Linked DNA regions of Homo sapiens: all the other regions are linked to region 2. Evidence: fine-mapped expression QTL. A gene starts in region 2. Each other region holds a variant in brackets. All regions are shown on one strand. Distances are from middle to middle. Region 1 has its middle 12 kb from the start of PDIA6. Region 2 holds the start of ATP6V1C2 (ATPase H+ transporting V1 subunit C2). Region 3 overlaps ATP6V1C2 (ATPase H+ transporting V1 subunit C2).

What was found. PIP is the estimated chance that this variant, and not a neighbour inherited with it, causes the effect. A credible set is the group of variants that fine-mapping cannot tell apart.
Region 1: its variant is the best candidate, but not a certain one, in a credible set for the expression of ATP6V1C2 in lung (TOPMed, PIP 0.59).
Region 3: its variant is the best candidate, but not a certain one, in a credible set for the expression of ATP6V1C2 in visceral fat (GTEx, PIP 0.79).

What each region holds. Positions count from the first base shown.
Region 1 is chr2:10,820,230-10,828,409 of GRCh38, reverse strand. It overlaps a transcript of PDIA6 not described here. Among named protein-coding and RNA genes, the nearest start is that of PDIA6, 12 kb to the right of the region's middle. RefSeq lists an enhancer at 7,498-8,180. The variant G/A (reference allele first, on the strand shown) is at 4,549.
Region 2 is chr2:10,717,992-10,726,159 of GRCh38, reverse strand. It overlaps ATP6V1C2 (ATPase H+ transporting V1 subunit C2), which reads right to left and starts at 4,530. Exons shown (of 14, transcript NM_001039362.2): 1 at 4,429-4,530; 2 at 3,182-3,336. The coding sequence starts at 3,310.
Region 3 is chr2:10,781,833-10,789,984 of GRCh38, reverse strand. ATP6V1C2 (ATPase H+ transporting V1 subunit C2) reads right to left here. Exons shown (of 14, transcript NM_001039362.2): 13 at 7,610-7,742; 14 at 4,875-6,811. The coding sequence ends at 6,722. PDIA6 (protein disulfide isomerase family A member 6) reads left to right here. Exons shown (of 13, transcript NM_005742.4): 8 at 96-236; 9 at 1,004-1,088; 10 at 1,216-1,288; 11 at 2,546-2,704; 12 at 4,955-5,051; 13 at 5,659-6,594. The coding sequence ends at 5,727. Among named protein-coding and RNA genes, the nearest start is that of PDIA6, 27 kb to the left of the region's middle. The variant C/TC (reference allele first, on the strand shown) is at 3,660.

The DNA of each region.
Region 1 (8,180 bases), 100 kb before region 2:
TCTGCACTTCTTAAAGGGGAAATGACAAACGGCAGCCTGTTATTTCTCTTCCTCACCCTCTGAAACTACTTCCTGCCCATTGAATTTCTGATACATTTTAATTGAAAAATTGATATACAGATAAAGCAAATTGGGGGTAGGTTGGAATGAATAGTTGGAGCACAGAGGATTTTTAGGACAGTGAAACTACTGTGTCTGATACTATAAGAGTAGATGTGTGTCATCTCCATCTGTCCAGACCCATAGAATGCACAACACCAAGTGTGAACCCTAATGTAAACTGTGGGCTCTGGGGGATAATGAGGTGTCAATGTAGGTTCATTGTAACAAACATGCGGGCTGCTGCGGTGTGGGATGTTGATAGTGGGGAAGGCTGTGTGTGTGGCAGGGGGAGGGGTTTTATGGGGAATTCACTGTCCCCCTCAACTTTGCTGTAAACCTAAAACTGCTCTAATAGACTAAATGAAGTCTATTAATTTTATTACATTGCATTAAAAAAATAAAAATAAAAAGATTAAACTTTCACAAACTTTTTTTTTACTCTAGTTCTAAAGAATTGCAAGAAAAAAAAAATTTTTTTTTTTTTGAGACAGAGTCGTACTCTGTCACCCAGGCTGGAGTGCAGTGGCGTGATCTCGGCTCACTGCAACCTGTGCCTCCCAGATTCAAGTAATTCTCCTGCCTCAGCCACCTGAGTAGCTGGGATTACAGGTGTGTGCCTCCATATCCCACTAATTTTTGTATTTTTAGTAGAGACGAGGTTTCACCATGTTGGCCAGGCTGGTCTTGAACTCCTGGCCTCAAGTGATCTGCTCACCTCAGCCTCCCAAAGTGCTGGAATTACAAGTGTGAGCCACCACATCCAGCCCTTATATTTCTTCTGAAAACCTACACTTTCATTAAATTTTCAATCACTAAACTTTATTAGTATGTGGCAGACACTGTTGTAGACAGATGTTGCCAGCACATAGGAAGGTTCTCCTCTGTTCCCTCATGGAGGCTTCATCCTAGTGAAGACAGATGATAAACAAATAAATATGTAAATAAGGCTGGGTGCGGTGGCTCACACCTGTAATCCCAGCACTTTGGGAGGCTGAGGAGGGCGGATCATCTGAGGTCAGAAGTTTGAGACCAGCCTGGCCAACATAGTGAAACCCCGTCTCTACTGAAAATACAAAAATTAGCCAGGTGTGGTGGTGCATAACTGTAGTCCCAGCTACTCAGGAGGTTGAGGCAGGAAATTGCTTAAACCCGGGAGGCGGAGGTTGCAGTGAGCCGAGACTGTGCCATTGCACTCCAGCCTGGGCAGTAGACCAAGACTTCATCTCAATCAATCAATCAATCAGACACATATGAATTCTGATCAGTTCTGAGGAGAAACTAAACACCAAGTTTGATGAACTGCTCACCCGGGGGCACTGTCACTTCAGATCACCTGGTGTGAGAAGAGCCTGAAGAGGTGGTACATAAGCTGAGACTGCAGTGATGGAGGCAGCAGGTCGTGCCAAGGCCCGAAGGCAGGAACCAGCCTGTTGTGTCTGAGGAAATGAAAGAATACTGCCATGAACAGAGGGAAAGAGGGAGGGGTTTGAGGTGACGTCAGAGGCAGGCTCTTAAAGGTCTGCTCAGGAGGGCAGATTTTTCTTCTATGTCTTATAAGAAGCCACTGGGAAAGGTTCTGTCTGTTTAACAGTTTTATTGAGATATAATCCACACACCATATGATTCACCCAATTAAAGCGTATAATTCGACCTGGCACAGCGGCTCACGCCTGTAATCCCAGCACTTTGGGAGGCTGAGGCAAGCAGATCACCTGAGGTCAGGGGTTTGAGACCAGCCTGGCCAACATGGCAAAACCTCCTCTCTACTAAAAATACAAAAATTAGCCGGGTGTGGTGGCAGGCGCCTGTAATTCCAGCTACTCGGGAGGCTGAGGCAGGAGAATGGCTTGAATCCAGGAGGCAGAAGTTGCAGTGAGCCAAGACTGCGCCATTGCACTCCAGCCTAGGCAACAAGAGCGAGACTCCATAAAAAAAAAAATCCATTATTCAATGGTTTTTAGTAAATTCATAGATATGTGCAACTGTCCTCTCCCAACTCCCAGCCCTAGACAGCCACAAACCTACTTTCTGTCTCTATAGACTTCCTAGTTCCGAACTTGAATATGAAAGTAATCATGTGGTTATTTTGAGTCTGGCTTCTTCCACTTAGCATAATGTCATCAAGGTCAATCCATATCGTGGCATGCCACTGCGCTTCCTTCCTTTTAATAGCTGAATAATATTTCCGTTGTATAGCATGGCACTTTTCGTTCATCCATTCGTCAGGTGATGAACATTTGAGTTATTTCAGCCTTTTGATTATGATGAATAATGTTGCTAAAACATACCTGTATGTGTTTTGTGTGGACATGTGTTTCATTTTCTTGGGTAGATGCCTAGGAGTGGAATTTCTGGATCACATGGTAACTGTTGAATTATTTGAGGAGCTGTTGGACTGTTCTCTAAAGTGGTTGCACCATTTTACATTCCCAAAAGCCGGTGTTGGAGGGTTCCAATTTCTCCACCTCTTCACCAACACTTGTTATTCTCTGACTTTGATTCTAGCCAAGCCAGTGGGTATGAAGTTATTTCTCATTGTGGTTTTGATGGACATTTCTCTGGTAACTAATGACGCTGAGCATCTTTTCATGTGCTTTATTGGCCGTTTCTATGTCTTCCTTGGAGAAATGTCTACTCAGATCCTTTGGGCATTTTTAAATTGGTTCTTTTGTCTTCTTATTATTGAGTTGTAATCATTCCTTATACATTCTAGATACTAGTTCATTACCAGACATATCATTGCAAATATTTTATCCCACACTGTGTGTTGTCACTTCCTTGATGGTGCCCTTTGAAGCACAAAAGGTTTTAATTTGATGAATTCCAAATTGTCTATTTCTCTTCTGTTGTCCATTGGAAAGTTTTAAGTAGGGGAGAGGAGTGTGAACTAATTTAAACTTTTTCAAGAATCCATAAGAGTCTGCTTTGTGGAAAAAGAATTTTAAGATACCGTATTAGTCAGGATTCTCTAGAGGGACAGAACTAATAGGATATATATATACAGAGAGAGAGAGAGACAGAGAGAGAGACAGAGAGAGAGACAGAGAGAGACAGAGAGAGAGAGGAGTTTTTAAAATATTAACTCACATGATCGCAAGGTCCAAAAATAGGCCATCTGCAGGCTGAGGAGTAAGGAGAGCCAGTCCAAGTCCCAAAACTGAAGAACTTGGAGTCTGATGTTTGAGGGCAGGAAGCATCCAGCATGGGAGAAAGATGTAGGCTAGGAGGCTAGGCCAGCCTGGCCTTTTCACGTTTTTTTCCACCTGCTTCATATTCTAGCTGTATTGGCAGCTGATTAGCTGGTGCCCACCCAGATTAAGGGTGGGTCTGCCTTTCCCAACCCACTGACTCAAATGTTAATCTCCTTTGGCAACACCCTCACAGACACACCCAGGATCAATACTTTGCATCCTCCAATCCAATCAAGTTGACACTCTATATTAACCATCACAGATACCAAGAGTGAAAATAGAAAGACCAATTAGAAACCCAAATCAAACTTGCTTAAACAATAAAGATGATTTCATATTTCAATAACTGGAATGTTCAGCTGAAGGACAGTCTTCAGACACTGATCAGGTATTGTCTCCATTTCTCCGTGACTGTTTCAGCTCTGCCCCGCTTCAGCTTCATCCCCACGTGGGTTTTCCTCATCTTGTGGGGTAGTTTCCAGGGACAACAGGGATCCATGCTTCTGCCCAAGCAAATGCCACTCTTCTAGCCATTGACCAAAGTCCAGAGCTTCACTCTGATTGGTTTATGTCACATGCTCACCCTGGAACAATCACTGTGGCCATGTGAATGCCACTGGCCACTTGGCTTAGTGGCTATTGTGGTGACAAACCCCTTCCTGAGCCAATAACTGTGGCAAGGGGGATAGAGTTCTGCCAGCTGGACAACGCTGCTAGAATCCACCCAGGGTTGCTACACAATGGGGAGGGGCAGCAGAACACTCGACAGGTGTCATCGGCCACAGACATGTAATCACGGAATGTAAGCTGCCCCCAGGGATGGGGCATAACCTTGGGCACAGCAGCTCTTTTTAGCCAATGGAAGGACACAGCCATGAAGCAACAGCAGTCAACACTCCCCATGACTGGAGGTGTGAGTGTCTCCTCCTGAAGCAGAGTCTGGGCTACATACCACAGCATCCACTACAGTATGGAACCAACATTTTTGACTCTGAGATGGCTATCTGCCTACAGGAGGTTTACTGGAGTGTGCTCTTGGCAATGACACCAACAAGGAGGTGGCAAAAATAAGGTTGGGTAAGAGAAGCTAAATCATAAAGCTGAATCATGATGTGGGTGCTTACAAGGGCCTCAGTGGACCCCCATGGGAAGCTTAAAGCTGGGAAGGGCCTTCAGGGTTGTCCCGAATTGAGAAAAGGAGGGCAGTCCTTTGTATCCCCAAATCTATCAGTCATGGAATGTAAGCTGCCCCCAG[G/A]GAGGGAGTATAACCTTGGGCACAGCAGCTCTTTTTAGCCAATGGAAGGACAGAGCCATGAAGCAACAGCAGTCAACACTCCCTATGACTGGAGGTGTGAGTGTCCCCTCCTGAAGTGGGTCTGGGCTACACACCACAACATCCACTACAGTACAGCACTAACATTGTTGACTCTAAGGGGCTACTGCAAAAGTCCACATAGCCATTTGGAACCAAGGTGGTGGCAATTGTGAGAAAGTGGGAAAAATGTCAGCAGATTTTGAATATGTTTTGGTGCTCGAATTATCAGAAATTGCCAAAGAATGTTGGGAGCTGGTGATGGAAAGAGAACCCAATGAGATTTGGGGCTTGAGCAATTGGATTGGTGGTGTCATTGATACAGATGACAAAGTGTTCGCTGAGCACCTAGGCACTGAATAGAGATTTATTTCCTTCTTCTTAACCCTCTCCCACTTTATTCAGAAGTTCATATGAGCCATAACAAGGATTGGAAGAAGTTTTAGAAGTAACCTCCTGGGAGTCCATGAATTAGCAGCAGTGAGAGGCTAGAGGCCTGACAAAGAATTGAGAAGCAGCTGCTATATCCCAAGTGGCAAATGCCAGTGTGGATGGAGAAGAGAGAGCTTCATTCTGTGGCAGGAAAGCTTGGCTGCTGACAATGAGACTGCACCCTTGGGATTTGTCCCTTGGATTCTTTAGCATCTGAGCTCTAACCTCTGAAACACAAGAAAAAATGAGCAAGGTGATTTGTCCAGGCCACCTCTACTTCTGGAGAAAGGAGTCATAGCAAATGATCCACCACTATCTAGTCCCTGAGTGGATTTATACAAACCACCCCGAAGACACTGGGGTACTCTAAGATTGGCCCCAGATAAGCCATGGGGATACAGCACAGAAAAACTGTCCATGGCCAATATCAAAGATGCAGCTGGAGACCAGGCATCATGGGAGGTTCACAAAGGGGAGGCCTTGTCTTGTCCGCAGGAAGCTGCGCTCACAGCTTGTCTCCTCAGACTTGCTAGAGAGGCAACAGCCATAACAAAGGCTCAGACCTCACTTTTGGAGTGGCCACCATATGTTTTGGTTTTAGCTTTGCCTTGCAAATTGTTTAGTAAAGCCAGGCCAGAACATATACCCAAATGCTACTGCACCGATCCCAAGCTACCTGTTTGACTTATTAGATGGTATAGAGGGTGAAGATATTATCACTCTACTAAGTGCCTCCTTATCAATGAGTCCCACTAAGGAGCACGAGCCCACTTATCCCTGTTTGCAGTGCTACATTAAAAATCATTTATGAGGCCAGGCACGGTGGCTCACGCCTGTAATCCTAGCACTTTGGGAGGCTGAGGCGGGTGGATCACGAGGTCAGGAGATCGAGACCATCCTGGCTAACAGGGTGAAACTCCATCTCTACTAAAAATACAAAAAATTAGCCAGGCATCGTGGCGGGCGCCTGTAGTCTCAGCTACTCGGGAGGCTGAGGAAGGAGAATGGCATGAACCCGGGAGGCGGAGCTTGCAGTGAGCCTAGATCGCGCCACTGCACTCCAGCCTGGGCAACACAGCGAGACTCTGTCTCAAAAAAACAAAATAAATAAATAAATAAATAAAAATCATTTATGGCTGGGTGCAGTAGCTCATGCCTGTAATCTCAACACTCTAGCAGGCCGAGGTAGGCTGATCACTTGAGCCCAAGAGTTCAAGACAAGCCTGGACAACATGGTGAAACCCCATCTCTACAAAAATACAAAAATTAGCCAGGCATGGTGGTGCATGCTTGCAGTCCCAGCTACTCGGGAGGCTGAGGTGTGAGGATCACTTGAGCCCAGGAGGTTGAGGCTGTAGTAAGCCGTGATCATACCACTGCACTCCAGCCTGGGCAACAGACTCTGTCTCAAAAAAATTTTTTTTTTAATTTTAAAAATCGTTTATATAAGGCTGGGTGTGGTGGCTCAAGCCTGTAATCCCAAAACTTTGAGAGGCTGAGGCGGGAGGATCACTTGAGCCCAGGAGTTCAAGACCAGCCTGGGTAACATAGTGAGGTCCTGTCTCTACAAAAAATAAAACATTAGCCGGGCATAGCAGCATGTGCCTGTGGTCACAATTACTTGGGAGCCTGAGGCAGGGGGATCACTTGAGCCTAGGGGGTCAAGGCTGCAGCAAGCCATAACTGCGTCACTGCACTCCAGTCTGGGTGACAGAATGAGACCCTGTCTCAAAAAAAAAAATCATTTATTATTGCCCTTGGATAGAATCTTTAAATTCACAGAAACACTTACAACCCTATAGAAGGAGAAGTGCTGAATTGTCGAATTCTCCAACAATGCTTCCTCTTTCTAGATGTTTGCTCAGCATCAATTCAGATACCGCTGAATAGAAGGCAACACCCAACCACACAGCCAGAGGCCTCCTGGGTAAATCGGGGACTGCTCTCCTCTGACCCCTCTTTCTCCTGCCTCTACCCCTTGGCTTCACAGCAATTATTCATTTTTTAACACTCAAATGCTGGGTACCTGTTGCCTATGTCGGGGCACGCTGTTACTCCCTACACACAGGTAAAATTGATTAACCGAATCTTGCCCTCCACTGGCTTACTGTGCAACGGTAGAGACTGGAAGCAACAGACGAGGGTGAGCTTTGGAAGAGCTGATGAGGCCATGATTAATTTCAACTGAGAGGTAAGAGAGGGGGAAGGAAGGAGGTGGATTTCAGCTGGGCCATAAAGGATGGGCAATATTTCAACAACAGAAAAGTGAGAAGAGGGCATTCCAAATCTCCGAAGGCTGTTTTAAAACACGACCTGAAAATTCTGTGGCCATCTCCTCACTGGGAGGTAGAATCCACCCCCCTCCCCTTCGTCCTGGGCCCAACGACCTGCTTAACCAGGGTCAGTTTCCAAACCCAGGTCCTGAAGTGGCAGCTTCCTCTTCCTGACTCTTAGGACGCTCACTCTCAGAGCACAGCTTCCAGAGGAGAGAAGATACCCCCAGCATCCATGAGAAGAGACCTCCGGGAGAAGCTTGTGTGGGTGTGCCGACCACTGGCCCCAGTTGAGGTCCCAGCCAACATCAGCTCCGACTTCCAGCCATGTGAGTGAACTGGCCCAGCTCCCTGGCTTCGGGCCACCCCAGCTGGTGCCGCTGATACAGGAGGTAGAAAGAAATTATTTAGACAGATAGTGAGGACAAAAGAGTCCTCGACAGAACTTCCCTTCTAACAAAAAACAGCTCAAGAAATTATTTTTTTCCTAACGAAGAATAGCCTGAAAAATCAAACTACAGACACAGATAAACAAAGACAACTAGAAAAACTAGAAACTTACACAGGGGAATGCCAACGATGACATCTATAGAAACGAGGCTACCTGGGGGCTGGACATGTCCACCATGGAAGCTCCATCTTCCCCTTCTTTGTTAACACGTGTACAGTAAAAAAGAAATGGGCAACATGACAATTTAGACTGAAAACACACCTGTAATAAAATACTGGGGTGGGGGTTGCCAGAAATGTACACCTTATACAAATGACACACCTGGTCCTAATCAATTTTTCATGCCCTCTGTAGATCAGACACCACCTCCCCAGCGACTCATCTATAAAACACCCCACATTTAACCACAGATCAACAAC
Region 2 (8,168 bases):
AAGTTAAAGAAGTTCTCATTCCTAAAAGCTTTTCTGCTCCAAGACAGTCCCATCAGTTGTGTTTTTTGTTGTTGTTTTTGAGATGGAGTTTCGCTCTTGTTGCCCAGGCTGGAGTGAAATGGCACGATCTCGGCTCACCTCAACCTCCGCCTCCTGGATTCAAGTGATTCTCCTGCCTCAGCCTTCCTAGGTAGCTGGGATTACAGGTATGCACCATCATGCACGGCTAATTTTTTATTTTTAGTAGAGACAGGGTTTCTCCATGTTGGTCAGGCTGGTCTCGAACTCCCGACTTCAGGTGATCTGCCTGCCTTGGCCTCCCAAAGTGCTGGAATTACAGGCTCAAGCCACTGCACCCGGCCCCACCGTCTTTTTCTCTGTTCTTTGCTGTTATTAACCATGATCTTGAGGCCAAGGTGGGCAGATCACCTGAGTTCAGGAGTTTGAGACCAGCCTGGCCAATATGGCAAAACCCTGTCTCTACTAAAAATACAAAAATTAGCCGGGCATGGTGGCATGTGCCCGTAATCCAAGCTACTTGGGAGTCTGAGGCAGGAAAATCATTTGAACCTCGGAGGTGGAGGTTGCAGTGAGCCAAGATCGCACCACTGCACTCCAGCCTGGTCAGCAGAGCGAGACTGCATCTCAAAAAAAAAAAAAAAAAAAAAAATTCTTGCTGGGGAAGGAGGCAGCTTTTCCTTTCCTCCCACTTCATCATTCACCTAGGTCCTTTTCTTTTCAGAGAACTTATGATCTGTTTTTTTTGTTGTTGTTGTTTTTTATTTTTTGAGATCTCGGCTCACTGCAACCTCCACCTCCCAGGTTCAAGTGATTCTTCTGCCTCAGCCTCCCAAATAGCTGGTATTACAGGCATGTGCCCCACGCCTGGCTTATTTTTTTATATTTTTAGTAGAGATGGGGTTTGGTCATGTTGTCCATGCTGGTCTCAAACTCCTGACCTCAAGTGATCTTCCCACTTCGACCTCCCAAAGGGCTGGGATTACGGGAGTGAGCCACCGTGCCTGGCCATGATCTATTTCTTAGTGTAGAAATTACTACAATGTCCAAAATTGTATTTAAAGGTCTTTTCACAGAATCAGAAAGAAAAGGGTTGCTATCATGTGGTACCACCAACTAGATGTTAAAAAGTAATTAGGTTCTGAGATTTGGCAGAATTTCAAGAAAAAAAAAATTAAGAAAAATAATTAGGAGGCTGGGCACAGTGGCTCACACCTGTAATCTCAACACTTTGGGAGGCCGAAGGTTTGAGACCAAACTGGTCAACCTGGTGACACCCCGTCTCTACTAAAAATACAAAAACTAGCCAGGCATGGTGGCATGTGCCTGTAATCCCAGCTACTGGGGAGGCTGAGGCAGGAGAATCACTTGAACCCAGGAGGCGGAGGTTGCAGTGAGCCTAGATTGCACCACGGCATTCCAGCCTGGGTGACAGAGCGAGGCTCCAACCAAAAAAAAAAAAAAAAAGTAATTAGGAAATGATGAAGCCTGAATATCTCTACCAAGACAAGTCGCTTCTTCTCAAGTAACTTAATTTTAAGCAACTTCTGCAGGGGCTGTGTCTTCTTTTTTTATCTTTTTACCTTCCAGAGTCCAGCACAGTGCCTCACACACAGTATCAATGAGTGGATGCAGAATTTACTCACCCGTACAGTGTCCATTGCTGGACAAGCAGAGGCAGGCTTAAAAAGGCAGCAAGATGTGGTTTCAGAACCCACTGCTGCCACTTACCAGCCTGACAACACTTAGCCTCTCCCAGCCTGTCCCCAGAGTCAGCTTCCCGGTGATGCATTTCAAGTATCTAGCCGTCAGCTCTTTGCTCAACAAACGTTAGCAAATGGGGTAGCATTACAACCCTGGTAGCTGATGGGGCAGCTGTTTGGGCGGAGGGGCAAAGTGAGGTTTGAAAAGGGAGTATATGGCAGTTTTCTACAAGAGCAGATGCTGGGCAGTCAGTGCCATCTCACCAGCACCTGTGCCATGTGGTCTGGGAGAAAGCTGTAGTGTCTTCCCCGTGGAAACCTACAGCCTCAGAAAGCACCACGGTAAGTCCACTCTTTTTGAAGTAAAATAATTGTGTGGCCAGGCGTGGTGGCTCACTCCTGTAATCCCAGCACTTTGGGAGGCCGAGGCAGGTGGATCACCTGAGGGCAGGAGTTTGAGACCAGCCTGCCCAACATGGTGAAACCCCATCTCTACTAATAATACAAAAATTAGCCGGGCATGGTGGCACACGCCTGTAATCCCAGCTACTCGGGGGGAAAAAAATTGCACATGTCTCATTCTTTTTTTTTTTTTTTTTTTGAGACAGAGTCTCGCCGTTCACCCAGGCTGGAGTGCAGTGGCGCAATCTCGGCTCACTGCAAGCTCCACCTCCCGGATTCACACCATTCTCCTGCCTCAGCCTCCCGAGTAGCTAGGACTACAGGCGCTCGCCACCATGCCTGGCTATTTTTTTGTATTTTTTAGTAGAGACGGGGTTTCACCGTGTTAGCCAGGATGGTCTCGATCTCCTGACCTCATGATCCACCCACCTCGGCCTCCCAAAGTGCTGGGATTACAGGCGTGAGCCACCGCGCCTGGCCTCATTCTTCCTTAATGTTGGTTTCGTTTGAACTTTGCCCTCCACTCCAAGAACCCTTAGATGCCTGGGCATGACCCAAACTCTCTTCTGTCACCAAATTCCCTCCCTTCCCCTCCCTCAGGACCAAAGGGATCCTAGATTTCCTCCCCTGCCCCCAGGTCAAGAGTACAATCAAGGCTGAAGCCCCCCAAGCCTGCACATCTAAACTATATGGTGGGTCTTCTGAGATGTTGCAGACAAACCAGGAGGAGCCAGAGGAACACCCAAGAGAACCTGAGTGTGCATTTAACGTGCTTCCCACTTTTTGAAGCATTAGACACTGCTACCCACAACCTTGTCCCCCTGTTCATTCCTTCCTGTGGCTGCATCTACATAGGTATCACAATTTATTTGGGACTATGGCATGATATCCCACCTAGCCCATCACCTCCCCGTCCATCCTCAAACCTCAGCTTGTCCTCAGAGCCCCTGCTTTGCCTTGATACTTTCTCCTTGGCTTCCTGAGGTAGCAACCTGTCTCCCTCTCCTGTCTCCCCCTGACCAATCCATCCCTTTTTCACTCCTCCCCAAGAATTTTACCTTGAAGTCAGGAATAGCGAATTTGGTATTATAAGACAGGTTGGACTTGGAGGTTACAGTATTCATCCTCTCCAGAGCTTGCAAATTTTCCTTATCGCCAGGGGCAGAAATTAACCAAAACTCCGACATGCTTCCAGTCTTCTCTTACCCAGTGACTGCCCAGAACCAGGACAAACATACACAAACAGAAACAGAAGGAGAGATGTGTCAGATATCCCCGCCTCACCACTCCCTACCCTCCAATTCATCCTTTCTAGGATGAGCTCCAAGGACATCCATTTGCAAAAGCAAAGCTCTTATCTCCACCTGGGCAGCCCTCAGGTGTTCCCGAAACTCCAAAGCTCCTTGGTCCCTGCAGTGGTTCTGGCTGGTTTTCAGGAGCAGAGGAGGAGGGAGAGGTTCCTTTCTTTCTCTCCACCTCAGTGAACAACCCCTATCAGGCATCATAAAACGGGAGGACAGTAAGCTGGAGGCGGACACCTTCTGGGGGAATATTTGTCTTCCTTCCACACTGCATCTTCTGGGATGCAGGATGGGGTGGAGGAAGGCGTGGGATGAGGAAGGGATTTTCACAACAGGCTACCAGGTCAAACCGCAGGTCAAACTGGCCAACCTTGTGATTGGTATTAGCTTTAAAAATAGACTTCAGAGGATTTTTTTAAATAAGAAAAAAAAAAGTAGTAGGGGGTGAGGGGAACTACTAAAGTCTTTTTTCCACTAGGCGAGGTGCCCGCTCAGCAGTGCTGGGTCCCTTGCCCGGCGTGGCCGGTGGTTTCGCGGCCGCGTCTGCAGCCTCTACGGCCGATTCGATTCGTGCTGCTCCTTCACAGGTGTCCACACCCGCACCTTTCCCCCTCGGCCAGGTTCCCCCTTTCCGCTTGCCTCCCCGCGGCGTCTCCGGACGGCTGGGGGAAAGCAGGATAAGCTCTGAGGAGCCAGAGACCCCTGGTGGAACCTCTTCCTTTCGGACTCCCGGTCCCGCTCCAATCCGAGGGCATTTTGTTCTCTCCTAACCCCGCGCAGACCCAACGCAGCTCCTTTCCGCCTTGACTGCCCATGGCCTGGGGACGAACTGGCCCGCCGCAGCACCTGCGGAGATGCTACCAGCCCGGCCGCGGGGAAGCGCGCGGAGGTGCACGCTGCCCACGTTTCCAATGGGAAAGCGCAGGCTGGTGCGCAGCCGGACCCCGTGCCTGTGTCCCCACCCCGCCCCTGCCTCGGGTCCCCGCTCCGCGGTGCGTCCTTACCGGGAGCCGGCGGGGCGCGGGCCGCGCGGTAGGGGGCTGCGGGCGACGGGCGGCGGGTGCGGGGCCGGAGCGCTCTGCCGGCTCCCGGGAGGCAGCGGCTTCGCTGCCCCGCGCCCCGCCCCGCCTTTTATCCCGGGCTCTGGAGGCGGCCCCGGCCCCGCAGGATATTTGCATACGGGCCGTCCGCCTCCCGCCTCGCTCCAGCCAGGGGCCCGAGAGCCGGGGAGCAGGTGCAGGCGCCGGGCAGGAAGGCGCGGAGGAGACGCGCAGGGTCTCCAGTCCCCTACGCGCGAGGGCCGGGGCCCTGGGGGCTTCTGCGGCGCGTCCCACGGGGTCTCCTGCCGCACGACTGCGCTGCCGCGTCCGGGACGCGTGGACGGCTGAGCCGGGTGGGAGTCGGGAAAAGGCTCTGAGCTCGGGACCACCCCGCCCTCCCGCTGCGGCCGCCGCAGCCCCGCTTGCCCACCCACTCTCGCCTCACAGAGACATGCGCGGATCTCAGGGGAATCACCTACTCCCAGGTGTCTCCAGGCCAGTGCAAGAGACAGGGCCCACCTGTGGGGAGCCGCGCAACAGGTGCGCAGGTGCTCGGGACGCACCTGCGTAGACAGCGAAGCTTTTCCTGTCCGTGTGGGCGCGGGTGTGCGCCCGGTTGCCCAGGAAACTCCCACCTCACCCTCTCCACCTTCCGAATTGCCCTGTGGATGGGGGGTGGGGGGGCGGTTACAACTCACCGTACGACGATCAGAGATGAGTTCATGATCGGTGCTGTCTGGAACCAGGAGGGGGAAACCCTGGAAATTAACGTGTGAAGGTTAAAAACAAGACAAAACCAAAGGAAAACTCGGAGAATTCATTTTCTCTGGACCGAAGGAGAAGGCTTTAAAGCATCCTTCCATGTGGGCGATGTTTTCAGTGGTTTCTGGGAAAGATGAAGATCTCAAGAGTGTCCTTCGAGGGGGCATTGGAGACGGTGTTCTTGCTTCCTTAAACGTGGACTCCCCCTCCTGTGTAAACTAGCCTTATCTATCAACCCATTCTTGTGAATGCATCAGGGTCTTTGGCAGAAGGATTTGACATCATCTGAGACTTAAGCTGTAATCACATAGGGTGGGATGGGAAGCCCCAGAGACGGGACAGAAAGGTGGCTTTAAGATCACAGTGGGGTCGTACTGCCAGCCTAGGTTAGACTTGGAAGTCCCAGCACCTGCAGCAGGCATCGTTATTGGGACACTAATGTGCATTAGTCAGTCCTTGCAACATCTTCCTGAGGGAGGATACCTGAAACCAAGGGATGGGGAAACTCCGGTATGTTTGAGGACATTAAGTGGCTATTCCAGGGAAGGAGTGGCCCAGTTAGACATTAAAGCGGGGTGGTCTCCAATCTTGGACGTTATCCAGGCACGACATTTTATCCAGCCAGGGAAAACATCTTAGAGCTGGGGGCAGATCTCATCTGCAAACAAGGGTGGAGATGCCCACAGAAGTTACGTGAATTGCCCAGTGTCACACAGCTGGTTATGTCAGAGCTACAGTTGGAACTCGGGCCTGTGGCTGAGTCTTATGTCCTTTCTACTGCTCCCAACAAGCCTGCAGGACTAGATAATCAGGGTGAGGAAGAACACATGCTTTCTATTTTAGTCCACATTTTCCCATCTGCAAGGTTCAAAGCCATGGACCTGGCTTCTCAGAGACTGAGCAACACATTTAGAAGTATCTGTGACCTGGCTCGTGGCACCACTCTTTCTATACACCTGGTTACCTGTAAATACTTTGTTTTGTGCCAGGTGTGGTGGCTTACACCTGTAATCCCAGCACTTTGAGAGGCCAGGTGGGCAGGTCACCTGAGATCAGGAGTTCGAGACCAGCCTGACCAACATGGAGAAACCCCGTCTCTATTAAAAATAAAAAATTATCTGGGTGTGGTGGCGCATGCCTTAATCCCAGCTACTCGGGAGGCTGTGGCAGGAGAATCGCTTGAACCCAGAGGCAGAGGTTGCAGTGAGCCGATATCACACCATTGCACTCCAGCCTGGGCAACAAGAGTGAAACTCCATCTCAAAAAAGAAAACAAAAAACCCAATCCAAACCAAACCAAACCAAACCAAAACAACAACAACAACAACAAACAAAACAAAACAAAACTTTGTTCTGTGAATTAAGAGAGTCAGACACAAATAACTCCTGGATAGGCCAGGCACGGTGGCTCATGCCTGTAATCCCAGTACTTTGGGAGGCCCAGGCGGGTGGCTCACTTGAGATCAGGACTTTGAGACCAGCCTGGCCAACATGGTGAAACCCCATCTTTACTAAAAATACAAAAACTGGCTGGGCACGGTGGCTCACGCCTGTAATCCCAGCACTTTGGGAGGCCGAGGCAGGCGGATCACGAGGTCAGGAGATCAAGACCATCCTGGCTAACACGGTGAAACCCCATCTCTACTAAAAATACAAAAAAATTAGCTGGGCTTGGTGGCGGGCGCCTATAGTCCCAGCTACTCGGGAGGCTGAGGCAGGAGAATGGCGTGAACCCGGGAGGCGGAGGTTGCAGTGAGCCAAGATTGCGCCACTGCACTCCAGCCTGGGCGATAGAGCGAGACTCCGTCCCAAAAAAAAAAAAAAAAACTAGCTGGACATGGTGGTACGCACCTGCGGTCTCAGCTGCTAGGGAGGCTGAGGCGCGAGAATCACTTGAACCTGAGAGGCAGAGGTTACAGTGAGTCGAGACCATGCCACTGTACTCCAGCCTGGGTGACAGAACAAGACTCCATCTCCAAAAACAAAAAACAAAACAAAACAAAAACAAAAACACACAAATAACTTCTGGACATCATCTGATTAAGAAAATAATAAGGACCTACAGTGTTCCTTGTCTTCCTCAAAATCTTCCTACTCAAAATCTAAAATCTTTCTGGTCTTTCACATCTTAAGTTTCTTGTTTCATAGCTGAATTTATAATGGATGATGTCTACTGCTGCAGGGGTAGCTTGATATTTTTCAAATAACTTTTTATCTGCTTATATAGGTAATTCTCTCCTTTTCTTTTCTCCAACAAGAATGAGCTTGAAATTTCTGTTTTTTAAAAAGAATTTGGCAAACAGAGAAGTATAAGGAAGAAAATAAAAATTACTTGTAATTCTATAATTAGCTGCTGTTAACATTTAAATTCTTTATTACCATTAATGCATATTCATGTATAGATGCAGATTTCTTTGCATGATTGAGATTATATATTATTCATAAATCTTGGCATTCTGCTGTTTGCTTTCTAAAGATCAAAAAAGTTATCAAATGTATCTTATCAGTAAAGGATAATCCAATGTCATCAGAGTTTACCACAGCTCAGAACTTGAGTAAGATTCTGAAGCCAAATAAAGATGCCTTGTTAAACAACTTACATCTTGAAAAGGTGGCAAGGCGGGCGGGAATCTTGTCCAAGAGGTTGTTTGATTTGCATTTCTCAAAGGCAACCACATGTGTACTTACCAGTTTTGAGCTAACTTGTGTTTTTCTCTCACAAAGATCAGCCTTTAACAGATAAATAGGGAGAAAACAACAAAAAGTTCTGGAGCCTGCTCCCTTGGTATATTAAAAGAGTATGATTTAGCATTTACACTGTATAAGGAAAGTATTTTTCTTCCATATTTCAACCTGAAGCACCATTTAGCAACCCATTTTCTGTCCCCTCCCTATACAACTTTAAAGTTTCTGAAATCTGCTGCTAAAAGACTTAAAAGTTT
Region 3 (8,152 bases), 64 kb before region 2:
AAAATTACCTATAAGGTGGTTTTAGAAACTGTAAAGATTGTGTTATTTTGCATTAAGTGTTAATTGGATTTTATCCTCTGACCTTTTTTTAATAGATTAGAGGATTTCCTACAATCAAGATATTTCAGAAAGGCGAGTCTCCTGTGGATTATGACGGTGGGCGGACAAGATCCGACATCGTGTCCCGGGCCCTTGATTTGTTTTCTGATAACGCCCCACCTCCTGAGCTGCTTGAGGTAAACCACTTCAACTGCTTGTAGTCCAGAAAGCTTTTTTAGCTGATGGTGAGGAATGTTAAAGCAGTGTGACACACTGTTCATTTTATGCCCTTAAAGATACTCTCTTTAAAGTGGTTTCTATACTTTGAAATGGAAAAAAAGTCTGATAAATTGCTTTTCATAACTTTTAGCATTAGAATAATTACACTGAACAGAAATACGAGCTTCTTAAAGATAGAGTGTATTCAATCACTCTTGCTTATCATTCTCAAAGTAATAGAACATTTATCAAGTACTAATCATGTAACAGGCACCGTTCTGGTGTCTTTGTATAGTTTTGTTTTGTTTTGTTTTGTTTTCATTTAATTCTCACATGAACACTGAGAGGTAGATACTGTTTTTAATCTCCATTTTATATATGGGGAAATTGAGGCACAGAGCCTCAAGTGTGTATAAACATATAAGACATATAATACATGTAAGTATAATCTATTTAAACAAGTAAGTGGCAGAGCCAGGCTGTGTCCAGGCATTGCGATTTCAGAGATGTTTGTATGTGTGCTAATCACCCCACCTCCACCACCACAGCTTCCACAGGCTTAAGAATCAGTAGCAGAAAAATCTCCTCTTAGAGAACATGCCTCCAGGTGTTTCCATACGAGGAAGTAGTCGTGGGAGAAATGTTTTCAATGAAAGTGACGGTGCGAAGGTCTTGTTTGCCAGCTTACCTTTAGGTGTTGTATCATGCAGCCTCCTGATTGTCCCTTGTCTTTTGGGTCCCACAGATTATCAACGAGGACATTGCCAAGAGGACGTGTGAGGAGCACCAGCTCTGTGTTGTGGCTGTGCTGCCCCATATCCTTGATACTGGTAAGACAGACGGAAATGATTTCCCTTAGCTGTTCTATGCTAGATGCTCTGAGAATACTTTCTAAATGGATTAATTTTATGGACTCCTTTATCTTTACCTTTAAAAAACTTTGTCTATTTAAATCAGGAGCTGCAGGCAGAAATTCTTATCTGGAAGTTCTTCTGAAGTTGGCAGACAAATACAAAAAGAAAATGTGGGGGTAAGTTACTGAGCTTACTGTCTGAGTGTCATCTGAACAGCTGATTATAGGCTTTCTTGAGAGTGGTTCCCCCGTGTTTTTGTAAGCTGTGTTCTATGTTTGCTCTGCTATATGTTTTTTTTTTTTTTCCCTCCTGCCTCAGCCTCCCAAGTAGCTGGGATTATAGGCGCCCGCCACCACACCCAGCTAATTTTTGTATTTTTAGTAGGGTCAGGGTTTCACCATGTTGTCTAGGCTGGTCTCAAAACTCCTGACCTCAAGTGATCCACCTGCCTCCACCTCCCAAAGTCCTGGGATTACAGGTGTAAGCCACCGCACCCGGCCTGCTCTGCTATATGTTTTTATTCAGGATGTGAAAACTTTATCATGGGAGGAAAAGAAGGAATGAAGGGCTGTCAGCACAGCATGCATTTTTCTCATAGGAATCATGTTTTACATGGTGATTGGAGTGCCAGGTTAGCAGGCAGACACATAAGGAGTAGTGCACCTGAATTCTACTGTGAACTTGAAGGCTGGGTGAGAAAGGGGAAATAGAATTGTTTCCTTCTCCTCTTCTGAGTTAAGGACTGGATCTAGGCACATTTTCAAAACAGTGTATCTCTTTCCTATTTTATCCTTTTTTTTTTTTTTTGAGACAGAGTCTCACTCTCTTGCCCAGGGTGGAGTGCAGTGGCACAATCTCGGCTTACTGCAACCTCCGCCTCCCGGGTTCAAAAGATCCTCCTGCCTTAGCCTCCTGCGTAGCTGGGACTACAGGCGCACGCCACCATGCCCGGCTAATTTTTGTGATTTTAGTAGAGATGGGGTTTGCACCATATTGGTCAGGCTGGTCTCGAACTCCTGACCTCAGGTGATCCACCTATCTTGGCCTCCCAAAGTGCTGGGATCACAGGCGTGAGCCACCGTGCCCAGCCTCCTTCCTATTTATCTTTTTGCTTCTTGTCCTCAGTATCCATTGCTTTCCCCAGGTACCTAGCGCCCCCTGTTGTCCCTCTCTCGATGACCTTGCTCCTCCTCCATTAGTCCAGCAAATGTTTATTAGATGCCTACAGAACGCGAGAACATGCTTAATAACCCAAATGATATTGGTGGGATTTCAGGTAAAAAGGGAAAATCCATATAGAAACTCATCTTTTGTTTTTATTTGTCATTCTACGAAATATCTGAAGCGTGATCTTTTGTTCTCTAAGATCTTCTAGTTAGATCGTAAGCAATTTAAAAGACATATTTGCCCTAAAAACCAGTCTGGTTTTCTAGGTGGCTGTGGACAGAAGCTGGAGCCCAGTCTGAACTTGAGACCGCGTTGGGGATTGGAGGGTTTGGGTACCCCGCCATGGCCGCCATCAATGCACGCAAGATGAAATTTGCTCTGCTAAAAGGCTCCTTCAGTGAGCAAGGCATCAACGAGTTTCTCAGGTAATTTGTTTTCTTAGGTTGTTTGTTGTTTTGTCTGTTTGTTTGGTTCTGTTGTAGGTTTATATTTGGAACTAGGTATATATAAGCCAGGTAATAAATGGAATTTAAAATGCAAACTAATTCCAGAGAATTGAATGTTTATACATTAGAGTTTTTAAATTGTCTCCCTGTTCGTTCTTTTTTCCATGGAATACTCTGCTTGCGGGATGAGGAGAAAGCATTGCTACCCTCGGGCCGCCCTGTGTGCCATTCTGTGCATCTGGCCCTGGGCTCTTTCTCATTCTCATAAAGGTCTCATATGGGCTAGAGGCAGCCCTGTCTGTCCATCCTCACCCTCATATGCATTGTAATCTTGACCTTGGGGAAATGTGGTTTCCATTTCTGGGCACTTGGCTTTGGAATGTAGTTATTTATTTGAAAATGGGCGTACTTAAGTTACTCCAACAATGTGCAAACAACATGATAGGTTCTAAAACCAATATACAGAGCTGTCTACTCTGCTCTGCTATTCAGCTCACCTAATCATCTTTTAGGCAATACAGGGCATTGACCTAAAGAGGTTTTATTTCCCATTCTTGCTTTCTTCCGCGTTCATTTCTTAGCTGCTGTATAAGAGATGTTCAGCACACAAAAGGTAGTTGAGAGGCTTGTGTTGAATAATGAATAGGAAGAACAGTACATGAAAGCCTGCAGTGCTCTTGCTGCCAGTCTTCCTACTTGACACAGAAGTTTGTGTGCTGTGTGGAGACGTGTGTGTGTGCTGTGTGGAGAGTAGGGGCTCCAAAGTCAGGTGCCTCAGTCACAGCTCTGCCTTGAGTAGTGAAGTGGGAGGCATGGAGGAAGCCCTGTGAGATCAGCTGCTTCAGCCTCTGCCGGCGGGGGGCAGACTGTGGCTCCTTCCCTCCCAGCTCTCTCTCATTGTAGTTGGTTAATATGGTTAATGGGTGTTTTCTTT[C/TC]CCCCCCACCCCCGAGACAGAGTCTTGCTGTGTCGTCCGGGCTGGCACGATCTCGGCTCACTGCAACCTCCACCTCCCGGGTTCAAGTGATTCTCCTGCCTCAGCCTCCTGAGTAGCTGGGATTACAGGCGCCTGCCACCACGCCCAGCTAATTTTTGTATTTTTAGTAGAGATGGGTTTTCACCAGGTTGGCCAGGCGGGTCTCAAACCCCTGACCTCAAGTGATCCACCCACCTCAGCCTCCCAAAATGCTGGGATTACAGGTGTGAGCCACCACGCCTGGCCAAGGGGGTGTTTTCATTAAGTTTGTGGGGCTGGGTGCGGTGGCTCACGCCTGTAATTCCAACACTTTGGGAGTCTGAGGCAGGCGGATCACTTGAGGCCAGGAGTTCGAGACCAGGCTGGCCACCACGGTGAGACCTTATGTCTACTAAAAATACAAAAAATAGGCCAGGTGTGGTGTTGTAGGCCTGCAGTCCTAGCTACTAGGGAGGCTGAGGCACACCCAGGAGGTGGACGTTGCAGTGAGCTGAGATCACACCACTGCACTCCAGCCTGGGCAAAAGAGTGTGACTTGGTCTCAAAGAAAAAGAAGTTTGTGGACTGCTTAAGTTTGTGATTGTCATAGAGTAGTATTTATTAAATCATGAAGTCAGAATGTGAATATATCTCCTGTAATTTTTTTTTCTAATAATAGGTTTGCTTATTCTAGCCCATTGGTGCCATAGATTGTTAGTCTAGCTCTATTATTCTATGAGTTGTTTGGTGAACTCTAAATATTTGTGCCCACAGTATTTCTGGCTCTGGTTTCCCAACAGCCAGATTACACCAGGTCTGGTATGTTTCAAGTACTGATGTTTATGCACATACGCACCCCGCTCTCTGCCAGCGCACTGGAACCAGTCGCCTCACTTCTGATATGCTCCCTCTGTACAGGTTCACAGCAGTCTTAGAAAGCTCGCAGGCAGCCCATGTTCTAGATCAACTTTGATAATTATTTATGTATTTAATTTGTATTTCAGCAAATGCTCTGCTATTTTTAAAAGCTTACTGATAGCAACTGACTTTATCTGATGCAGGGGGCTTAGTTGGGAATGTTGAATCTGGTTGTAATGTTGTCCGTGATTAAAAAGATAATGTCCTCAAGGTGTTTCTGAGGAATGTAGTGCAGCAAGAGAGAAGAAATGCCTCTGCATAAACAAAGTAGGCAGACTGTTATTTTTAAAGTTGTTTATTCTTCTGCACCAGCAGTCCATTGTAAATGTGTGTGTGTGTTTTGGTCATTTTTCCCTAAGGGAGCTCTCTTTTGGGCGTGGCTCCACGGCACCTGTAGGAGGCGGGGCTTTCCCTACCATCGTTGAGAGAGAGCCTTGGGACGGCAGGGATGGCGAGGTGAGTGCCCGGGAGGGAAGCTGTGCGGGCAGCAGTCCTGGTTTACTCTCTTGAGCCTGTGCATCTCTGCACCTGGAGTCAAGTCCTTCCCATCAGACCTCAGCCCTGGTGCACCCGTGGGCCTTTTAAGAGGTTCTTCTCTGAAGACCCTTCATCTTCCTTATCACAAGTTTAAGTGCTGCATGGCATTTGATACTCTTGACAGCCAAGATACATTTCAGTAGTAAGGTTGCTTTCCTGATTATTACCTTAAAGTGAACATTTAACCTGGAATTCATTTACTTTATCTTAGAAAAATAGAAAATGATAGCTTTGAAATTAGCACTTATTTCTGTACTGTTGTGTCCCACCCTCCTCAAAAGGACACGTTCAAGTGGCTTCCAGTGTTAAAATGGTGAGTGATGTGATGTTGAAATGTTTCACCTGAGTTCTGAGCTTTTCCATCCGTATAATCATAGGTACGAAGGTCAGGGTAGGAGTCAGACTGAGGAGAACCTGGATTGTAGCAGGAGTAGCTCCAGAGAGTCGCTCTTCCATAAAATGAGATGTTGACCTTCCAGGGTGTCCCCTTCTGCAGATCTAACAGTGGCTTTCTGTCGTCTCCCAGCTTCCCGTGGAGGATGACATTGACCTCAGTGATGTGGAGCTTGATGACTTAGGGAAAGATGAGTTGTGAGAGCCACAACAGAGGCTTCAGACCATTTTCTTTTCTTGGGAGCCAGTGGATTTTTCCAGCAGTGAAGGGACATTCTCTACACTCAGATGACTCTACCAGTGGCCTTTTAACCAAGAAGTAGTACTTGATTGGTCATTTGAAAACACTGCAACAGTGAACTTTTGCATCTCAAGAAAACATTGAAAAATTCTATGAATTGTTGTAGCCGGTGAATTGAGTCGTATTCTGTCACATAATATTTTGAAGAAAACTTGGCTGTCGAAACATTTTTCTCTCTGACTGCTGCTTGAATGTTCTTGGAGGCTGTTTCTTATGTATGGGTTTTTTTTAATGTGATCCCTTCATTTGAATATTAATGGCTTTTTCCATTAAAGAATAAAATATTTTGGACAATGCCGATAAATGTATGAAGTTAGTATCCACATCATAAATTCAGAGTGATGTTTAGCAGTAAATCAATATTTTGAAGTGATACACAGATGTCTTTCCTCCCCACAAACTTTTTTAAACAAAAAACAAGACCTCTTTTCTTTAGATGGTGCCACCTATGCCCACCACAACAGAGATTTTACATGGAAACCGGGCTCAGTGAGAACTGATTTCCTGCCCAATATTTGTCTTTGGGCTGTCTCTAGTGACTAATTATTAAGGAATCTAGCTGGTTATACAGTTCAAGGCTTTCTATGTTGTTAATGAACCTCAAAATAGCCGTTAAGACATGAAATACAGCAGCAGGTTACCAATGCGAACAGGTAGTTCGCATTTATGTAAAACATTCAGAAAATGAAGTTTTGAATTTGTTGGAACATTCAAAGGACTTGAGAGCATTTTATTGTAACTTAAAAAAATAAATACAACTGTCACTAACTTTTGTGAGCAATTTCTCTGAAAAAGATCTTAGTTCTGTAAGACATTTGAACCATTCTCTGGCTAAAGGAAAGAGGTGTCTGTAATAATCTGCACGAACATGAGACAGAGGTGCCAGCTGGCCTTTCTAGTCAAGAAGACTAAGGTCAATATGGAAGTAGACATAAGGAAAATAGTCTTGGTTATTGAGTTGCAGTCCCGGGATCTCCACAGATGCCTACAAAAGAAGACATGGTAATGCTCTAAGTGCATAAACTAGTTTCCTGTCTTATCCTTTTAGTTTTGAGGAAGCTCGCCAGGCACTGAGCGTACGTTCTGCTCTGCGTAGCTGTGGTCCACCCCTCCAACCCTCTCCTTGCTGTGCTTTAATGTGTATGACATGTAGATTTTCATAACAGGCTGACAGATAGTTTTGCTTTGTTTTGTTTTTGAGACAGTTTCTGTCACCCAGGCTGGACTCAGCTCACTGCCTGCCTCAGACTCCCAAGTAGCTGGGATTACAGGCATGCACCACCACTCCTGGCAAATTTTTTTTTTTTTTTTTTTTTTTTTTTTTTTTTTGAGACAGAGTCTTGTTCTGTCGCCAGGCTGGAGTGTAGTGGCGTGATCTCAGCTCACTGCAACCTCCGCCTCCCAGGTTCAAGCGATTCTCCTGCCTCAACCTCCCAAGTAGCTGAGACTACAGGCACACACCACCATACCCAGCTAATTTTTGTATTTTTAGTAGAGACAGGGTTTCACCATGTTGGCCAGGTTGGTCTCCATCTCTTGACTTCGTGATCCACCCGCCTTGGCCTCCTGAAGTGCTGGGATTACAGGCGTGAGCCACTATGCCCAGCCCAATTTTTTTTTTAGTAGAGACAGGGTCTTACCATGTTGGCTAGGCTGGTCTCAAACCCTTGACCTCAAGTGATCCACCTACCTCCCAAAGTGTTGGGATTACAGGCAGATACCAGTTTTTTGAAAGTAAGATGCTGAGCTTACTGTAGAAATACTGCTGTTTCTGGATACCTACATCCAGTATACTTGTAGCGGCTACTTCATCCAGATGTCGGAAGACAGAGTTTAGAACCTCTCTTAAACGCTTGGTGGATGACTTCTTATGCGGCTGCAGGAGCACTGCCTGGAAGTTCACTGGTAGTCCATACCTTTTCAGATAGACAAAATGTGTCAGTTCACTGCTCCAAATGCAAACACGGATAGAAGGAACCTGACCAGAAACAGTACATTCCGAGGGTGAAAAGCTTCAACCAACACAGCTTCATAAAGTCAAACTCGAGCAAAATGCCTAGGGTCAGCGGTGATCTCTGGATAGAAAAAGCTCTAGAATTTGCTAACCCCCTTCTGATAGCTAGTTTTCAACTATAGAGCAAAAGAGGTCATCCCTCTGGCCATGAATGGCCATTCCACGGTGCATGCTCAAGTTGAATGCAGGTAGTTGGACTGAACATTCGGACTCCAAGGCGTTTGTCTAAAACCCAGCTCGGCCGTTTTTCTCCACTAAAGGAGAGGCAAAAATCTGGTTTATCAAGATTGTTACTATTTTCGCTGAGTTTTT